2 linked regions of the Homo sapiens genome follow. The protein of the gene in region 1 purifies or fractionates together with the protein of each later gene. This does not show direct contact. Each region holds a gene or a part of one and is shown in the gene's direction. Other genes may lie near its edges.

Evidence for each region. The genes of interacting proteins can lie anywhere in the genome.
Region 2: the proteins of SIM2 (region 1) and NUDCD3 purify together in Homo sapiens (affinity purification with a luminescence readout; one large-scale study listed by IntAct). This does not show direct contact.

The regions. Positions count from the first base shown.
Region 1 is NC_000021.9:36,723,099-36,726,674, forward strand, and holds part of SIM2 (single-minded homolog 2 long isoform), read left to right. Parts: coding exon 1-32; intron 33-3,020; coding exon 3,021-3,220; intron 3,221-3,576. UniProt on the Homo sapiens protein: Transcription factor that may be a master gene of CNS development in cooperation with Arnt. It may have pleiotropic effects in the tissues expressed during development.
Region 2 is NC_000007.14:44,407,125-44,410,700, reverse strand, and holds part of NUDCD3 (nudC domain-containing protein 3), read left to right. Parts: intron 1-3,576.

The DNA.
Region 1 (3,576 bases):
GGAACGCGGGCCTGACCTGCAGCGGATACAAGGTACGGGGAGTCATGGGTGCGGGGAGGAGCTGGCTAAGGGTCTTCAATGTGTGTTTTCAAGAGCGTCTGCAGAAAGGAAGGCACGGGAGCACAAACTCGTCATCCCCACTAATGTAGAGCTCTCCAGCAACGTGGTGCACAGTCTCTTGGAGGCTCATGTGAGAGCTGGTGTTTTAGGAGGATGTTCCAGCTGGCTGGAATTCATCGCATAAGACCCGGAATCAGTGTGGCTTAGGGCAGATTTTATTAATACCTTGGCACTTTCCATGTGGACCAGTCCCAGTGGAGCCACCGCCTCTGGAGTTTATAGAGGCCCATCCTCCTGGGCACAGTGCAGCTGGCAGTGGTATCCAGAGCACGGACACTGCCCTTCCCCTTGGGATGCTCCACCAAGTTCCCTGCCGCCGATGACGGTGTGCACCACAATAATGCTAGCGCCCTTTCCAAGGTCCAAGGCAGAGCTTTCATCTGCGGCACCACACCTGGGCCACTCCCTCAAGCATCTCAGCTGCCCATTGGAATGAGCAGCACTGGCCCAGTTTTCTAGTCAAGGACCAGAGGAGGGACGGCAGAAGGGGCTTGGTGGCGGAGCTGGGACTCTGAGCCCAGCCCATGCTCCTCCCTGGCTCCACGTCTCTGCCAGACACCACCGCTTGTTCTTGTTAATTCCAGAATGGAGGAGTAGGTCATGTCTCAGGGCACGAGAGTCAGCCGCCCCCCAGGGAAAAGTGGGTCGGGGGAAGTCTGTGCTGAGTGCCCCCCGCCAACACTTTTGTCCCCTCTCTGGGCTCCTTACCCTCCTCCCAGGCATCTTCACTGCCATCTCTCCAACCTCAGAGGACAGACATCATAACCCATCAATATGAGGCTGAAAGCTGCCAGAAACTTTCTTCCAGGAGGATTTGTCTCTTAGAAAAGAAGGGAGGAGGATGGGGTGAGAGGAAAGGGCACTTTTGTGCCTTTGTCCTCTCTTTCTGGAAGGCCCCGCCCCAGCTCCCCTCTTTGACCCCACTCTGAGCTCCTCCTTTGACCTATATCTCACTGTGCTGTTACAGTTCGGGGGACATGTTTCTTCCTTTTTGTCCCAGATACTAAGCCTCTTTGGGCCACGGTGGGGCCCCAGGAGCCAACAGACATTCTTCAGGGCACTTGGGTCTTTTTGTTAAGGGACAGGGTCTTGCTCTGTCACCCAGGCTGGAGTCCAGTGGTGCAATCACAGCTCACTGGAGCCTCAAACTCCTGGGCTCAAATGATCCTCCCACCTCAGCCATCTGTGTAGCTGGGGCCACAGGCGCACGCCACCACACCCAGCTAATTTTTAAAATTTTTTGTGGAGATGGGGTCTTGCTGTGTTTCCAGGCTGGTCTTGAGTCCCTAGCCTCAGTCAATCCTCCTGCCTTGGCCTCCCAAAGTGTCAGGATTACAGACAGGAGCCACCGCGCCTGGATGGGACTTGGGTCTTGACTTTTTTTTGCCACTTATTAACTGTCCGCTGTCCAATCTTAAGCAATACACAACACCATCTTGTTCTTGGTTTCCTCATTAGTAAAATGGGAGAATAGACTGGAAGGATTTTAAGATTTGTTTTAGCCCTAAAGATGATGAATGCATTCAGAAATCCTGGAGAAAGAGTTTTGGAACAGAGAACTTAAGGCTAAGATTCTTCACTGTTGTCATGATGATATTGACCCTGTCAAGATTTCACAGACTGCAGCTTGAATAAATGCTTCCAGTAGTGACGCTCGAGGCTGTACAGATGTTTCTGTTTGACACCGAAACACTGCATTCTTGTCTGTATGGCTTTTGGCTATAGCAATTGGAAGGGCTTCTGTAGGGCCACTCTGGCTTATTATTATGAGGAAATAAAATCTTGAATTATAAATAAAGGAAATAAAAATACATTAAAAATGAAGACTTCAAAAAATTGTACTGGGGCAGGGCACAGTGATTCATGCCTGTAATTCCAGTACTTTGGAAGGCTAATGTGGGAGGATTGCTTGAGCCCAGGGGTTCGAGACCAGTCTGGGCAACATAATGAGACCTTGTCTCTACAAAAAATTTTTTAAAAAATTAGCCAGGCACGGTGGCACATGCCTGTGGTCCCAGCTACTCAGGAGGCTAAGGTGGGAGGATCACTTGAGCCTGGGAGGTCAAGGCTGCAGTGAGCCTGATTGCACTACTGCACTCCAGCCTGAATGACAGTGAGACCTTGTCTAAAAAAAAATCTACGGAAAGAATTGTTTATTTACTGGTACAGCGTGTCGAGTGATACAGATGCCAAGTTCAATCCCATTGGAAGGTGGTAAGCAGCATCGTCAGTGATGCAAGCACTGTGGAACAAATGGTTGGCCTCCCCCAGATGCCTTTATTGTGTTACCTACTCACAGCTTGGCAGTGAGCTCATATGTATATCTCCATCATATATGACAGGGCCCTAATTTGTAGTTACTTACAGTACAGTCAATTGGATAAGACAACCCTTATATTTTATTATGATATTTTTTGTTGTCTTGTGAGTTTGTTTTGTTACCCTGGCTGGAGTGCAGTGGCACAATCTCGGCTCACTGCAACCCCCGCCTCCAGGGCTCAAGTGATCCTCCCACCTCAGCCTCCCAAGTAGCTGGAGACTATAGGCATGCACCACCATGCCCGGATAATTTTTGTATTTTTTGTAGAGAAGGGGTTTCGCCATGTCACCAAGGCTGGTCTCGAACTCCTGGACTCAAGCAATCCCCCGACCTCGGCCTCCCAAAGTGCTGAGATGGCAAGACTGAGCCACTGCTTCCAGCTGTTATGTTGTTTCCTAAGAAGCACAGCTCTCCACTTCTCCTAAGCAATGAACCGGTGCCTGTCAGCACATTGGGCCGCACAGTGGAGTAGAGGCTGGGCTGGGAGATATTCTAGCATGTTTGAGAAAATGAGCCAGGAGGAGTGGGCTCCAGCCCAACCCCAGTGGCCAGTGGCTGACCCTGCCCTCTCCACTCCCAGGTCATCCACTGCAGTGGCTACTTGAAGATCAGGCAGTATATGCTGGACATGTCCCTGTACGACTCCTGCTACCAGATTGTGGGGCTGGTGGCCGTGGGCCAGTCGCTGCCACCCAGTGCCATCACCGAGATCAAGCTGTACAGTAACATGTTCATGTTCAGGGCCAGCCTTGACCTGAAGCTGATATTCCTGGATTCCAGGTGAGTTCGGCACCTGCCACAGTGGCTGTGGCCTTCTGGAAGACACCGGTGGTGGAAATGGGTCCCTGAAAGCTGCCATCTTGGCCAAATCATAACAAGGAATAAGTCATAATAGGAATGTGGATTAAGCAAAACCAATTTATGAACTGAAAGAACATATGTCAGCCTTAGGACTCAAGGGCTTGTTTTACTTTATTTACTTATTGATTTACTTATTTTATTTACTTATTGATTACTTATTTTATTTACTTATTGATTACTTGTTTTATTTTATTTACTTATTTGAATCACTAGAGTTTGAAATGAAAACATGGGCTGTGAGCACAGGTTGGGCTTTTTTGAAGGCCATGATGTCA
Region 2 (3,576 bases), on another chromosome or scaffold:
CACCATGCCTGGCCTGTTACTAGACTTTTTTTTTTTTGAGACAGAGTCTTGCTCTGTCCCCCAGGCTGGAGTGCAGTGGCAGGATCTCCACTCACTGCAAGCTCCACCTCCTGGGTTCACACCATTCTCCTGCCTCAGCCTCCCAAGTAGCTGGGACTACAGGCACCCGCCACCACACCCGGATAATTTTTTTTGTATTTTTAGTAGAGACGGGGTTTCACCATGTTAGCCAGGATGGTCTTGATCTTCTGACCTCGTGATCCACCCACCTCGGCCTCCCAAAGTGCTGGGATTACAGGCGTGAGCCACTGTGCCTGGCTGTTTTTAGACTTTTAATTCTGTTCCATTGATCTGTATAGATGCCTGTCCTTATGCCAGTACCACACTGTTTTGATTACTGTAGCTTTATAGTAAGTTCTGAAGATTTTATTCCTTGTTTTTGTTCTGTTCCTTCATTATTGACTTGGCTTTTTTGACAGTTTGATTATGACATCTAGGTGAGGCTGGCTCCCTTTTAGTTTATTTTACTTGGAATTCATTGAGCTTCTTGGGTGTAATTTTTTTCATGTCAAATTTGGAAAGTTTTTAGCCATTATTCTTTCAAATATTCTTTCTTCTTTTCTCTTCTGTATGTTGGTATGCTTAATAGTGTCCCTCAGGTTCTGTGACTCTGTTTATTTTTCTTCACTGTTTTTTCCTCCTGTTTCGCAGTTTGGGTAATCTCAATTGACCTGTCTTCAAGTTTGCTTGTTCTTTCTTCTAAATGCTAAAAAGTGGTTTTGAGCCCCTTTCATGAACGCTTATCTTTTCCCCCTTTTACTTTTGAACTCCAGAATTTGTATTTGATTCTTAAAAAAATGGTAATAATAATTTCTATCTCGTTATCAGTATCAATAGTGATACTGATATTTATTGATATTCTCTACTTAAAAGACGTTATTCCCATACTTTCCTTTAGTAATTTTTGCATAGTTTTCTTAGCTCTTTGAGCATATTTAAAATAGGTGATTTAGAGACTGTTTTCTGCTAAGTTCTTCATATGTGGGCTTCCTCAGGGACAGATTTTATTGATTGCTTTCTTTTTCCTATGTATGGGCCATACTTTGTTGTTTCTTTGTCTAATTTTTTTTTTTTTGCTGTTATTGAGAAATGGATTTTTAAATAACACAATGGGGTGACTCAGGAAATCAGATGCTCCTTTCTTCCCATGGTTGCTATTGGTACGTGATATAGTTGTTCTTGTTTAATGACTTTTCTGAACTAATTCTGTAAAGTTTGTATTCTTTATTGTGTCTGACCAGTGAAATCTGTACTTGGTGAACTTAGTGGCCAAGTAATTATTAGATGGCGATTTCCTTAAACTCCTGGGATCAGTAAACACCTGTTTTTGTCGAGGGGCTTCATCTACCTGTTGGAGCATACCTTCATTGCTTGGCCTAACAGTTAAAAACTGCCTTAGCCTTTATTTCCTGCTGATGTTGAGTCAAAGTCAGCCAGAGGTGAGAGCTTAAGGCCTTCTTAGGTTTTTCCTGAGTGTGCAGTGAAGCTCTGTACATTCATGTGTCTTTCTAGATTCCTGGGAAAATGTCAAAGCTTTTCAAAGCCCCCACGGACATTTTATTTCCCACCTTTGCCTTTGGTTTGCCTCAGTTGTTATCTGCCACCTCAGGAGGCTGCAAAGTTAAAACACTTGCCGTATTTTCAACAGACACTCCTGGGTTGGGAGGAAGGCTTTTCTGAGTTTAGCCAGAAACAGTCAGTCAGTCTTGCAAATGAGGTCTTACAGGGAACCATCAGACAGGTCAAATGATGACAGTTCTTTGAGAATGAAGCTTTGAAAGAGCTCTAAGAGCACTGTTTTCTCCAGCGATGGCTGCTACGCTGTACCAGGAATGCGGCCTGCTGAGAGCCTGGAGAGTGGGGATGGGTCTAGGCCAAATTAAAATATCACAGAGCTCACTGTTCTTACTGAGATGTGGTTGTTTTCCTTGAATTAATGCTCCCTGGGTTCCTGCAAACCTTTGGTTAGTTTCCAAAATCCATAAGAAGTTGATACTGACAATTTTTGCCAACTTTTTGGTTGCTTTTATGGAGGAGAGCTTTTTGGAGGCCTGTAGTAACCACCATTTTCACTGACATCCTTTGGATCAGGAATCTCTTAAATCTTTTTTGTTTTCCTGAGGGTTCTTGCTGCCCTTCTTTTTTATCTTGTTATCAAAAATAGTATACTTCATCATAACCTCAGAATTACCCAGATTCATTAATACTGAGTATTGTCTAGAAATCTCTTTCTGCCTGAACTCCACTCTAGACTGGTTATTTCCTGTTCTGCTGTATAGCTACACTCCTGGTATTTTCTTCCTGCGTTTATAGATTAAATGCAGTTTTTGGACTTGAGTTGGATATTCCTCTTTTTCAGTTTTCATCCTCATTTTGTTTTTCTCAAAGTGATATATAATGTAGAATTGTTGTATATCTTAAAATGCATTTATTTTAACTTTTCACTTATTTCTCAGTTTGGGTGTATGTAGAATTCTAGCTTAAAAATAATTTTCCCTTGTTAGGATTGAAAGGGATATCTTCTTACACTCTGTGTAATTGATTCTGGAAGTCTATTCCATCTCTTTGTGAGTAAGCTTTTTCTCCTCCTTGGAACTTTCAGGACCTTTTTAAAAACACCCAGTGTCATAAAATTTCATGAGTCTTTCATTCATTCTGCTTAGCTCTTGGTGGGACTTTTCAATCTGGAGGCATATTTTCCTTTGGCTCTGGAAAATTATCTTATTACTGTCATAATTTCTGGAATGCCAAATTGATTGCCTGAATTGATCTGTGTTTCTACCTTGATTTCTTTGACTTTATCTTCCAGCCTCTTTATTGAAGTTTAATTTTAGCTACTGTATTTTAAATTCTTGTGTTCTTTCTTTTTGGCCTAATTGTTCTATTTTCATATTTTATTCTGGTTATATGGATATAGTGTCTTCTCAGATCTCTGTGAAGACATAAAATAGAAATATTTTTGGATATCTTTTTTCCAAATTAGCTCTGTATTTTTTTTTAACTTGTTTTCATCTGCCTGTTTTTTCTCACAAGATGCAGTCTTCAGTTCTCTAGTTTTTTTTTTTTTTTTTTTTGAGACAGAATTTCACTCCTGTTGCTCAGGCTCCTGTTGCAATGGTGCAGTCTCGGCTCACCGCAACCTCTGCCTCCCAGGTTCAAGCGATTCTCCTGCCTCAGCCTCCGGAGTAGCTGGGGTTACAGGCATACAACACCACGCCTGGCTAATTTTGTATTTTTGGTAGAGACGGGGTTTCTCCATGTTGGTCAGGCTGGTCTCGAACTGTCAACCTTAGGTGATCTGCCTGCCTCGGCCTCCTAAAGTGCTGAGATTACAGGTGTGAGCCACCATGCCCGGTCTTTTTTTTTTTTTTAATACAAAAATATTTTTCTCCCATTCTCTTGAGTGTGGGACCGTATTGATGGGTTTGTCTACTGTGTGTCTGAAACCTGCTCGTCCCACCACCACCGACAGCTGAGTGGATTGACCAGTCAGCTTTGCTTTATAGGACATAGGGT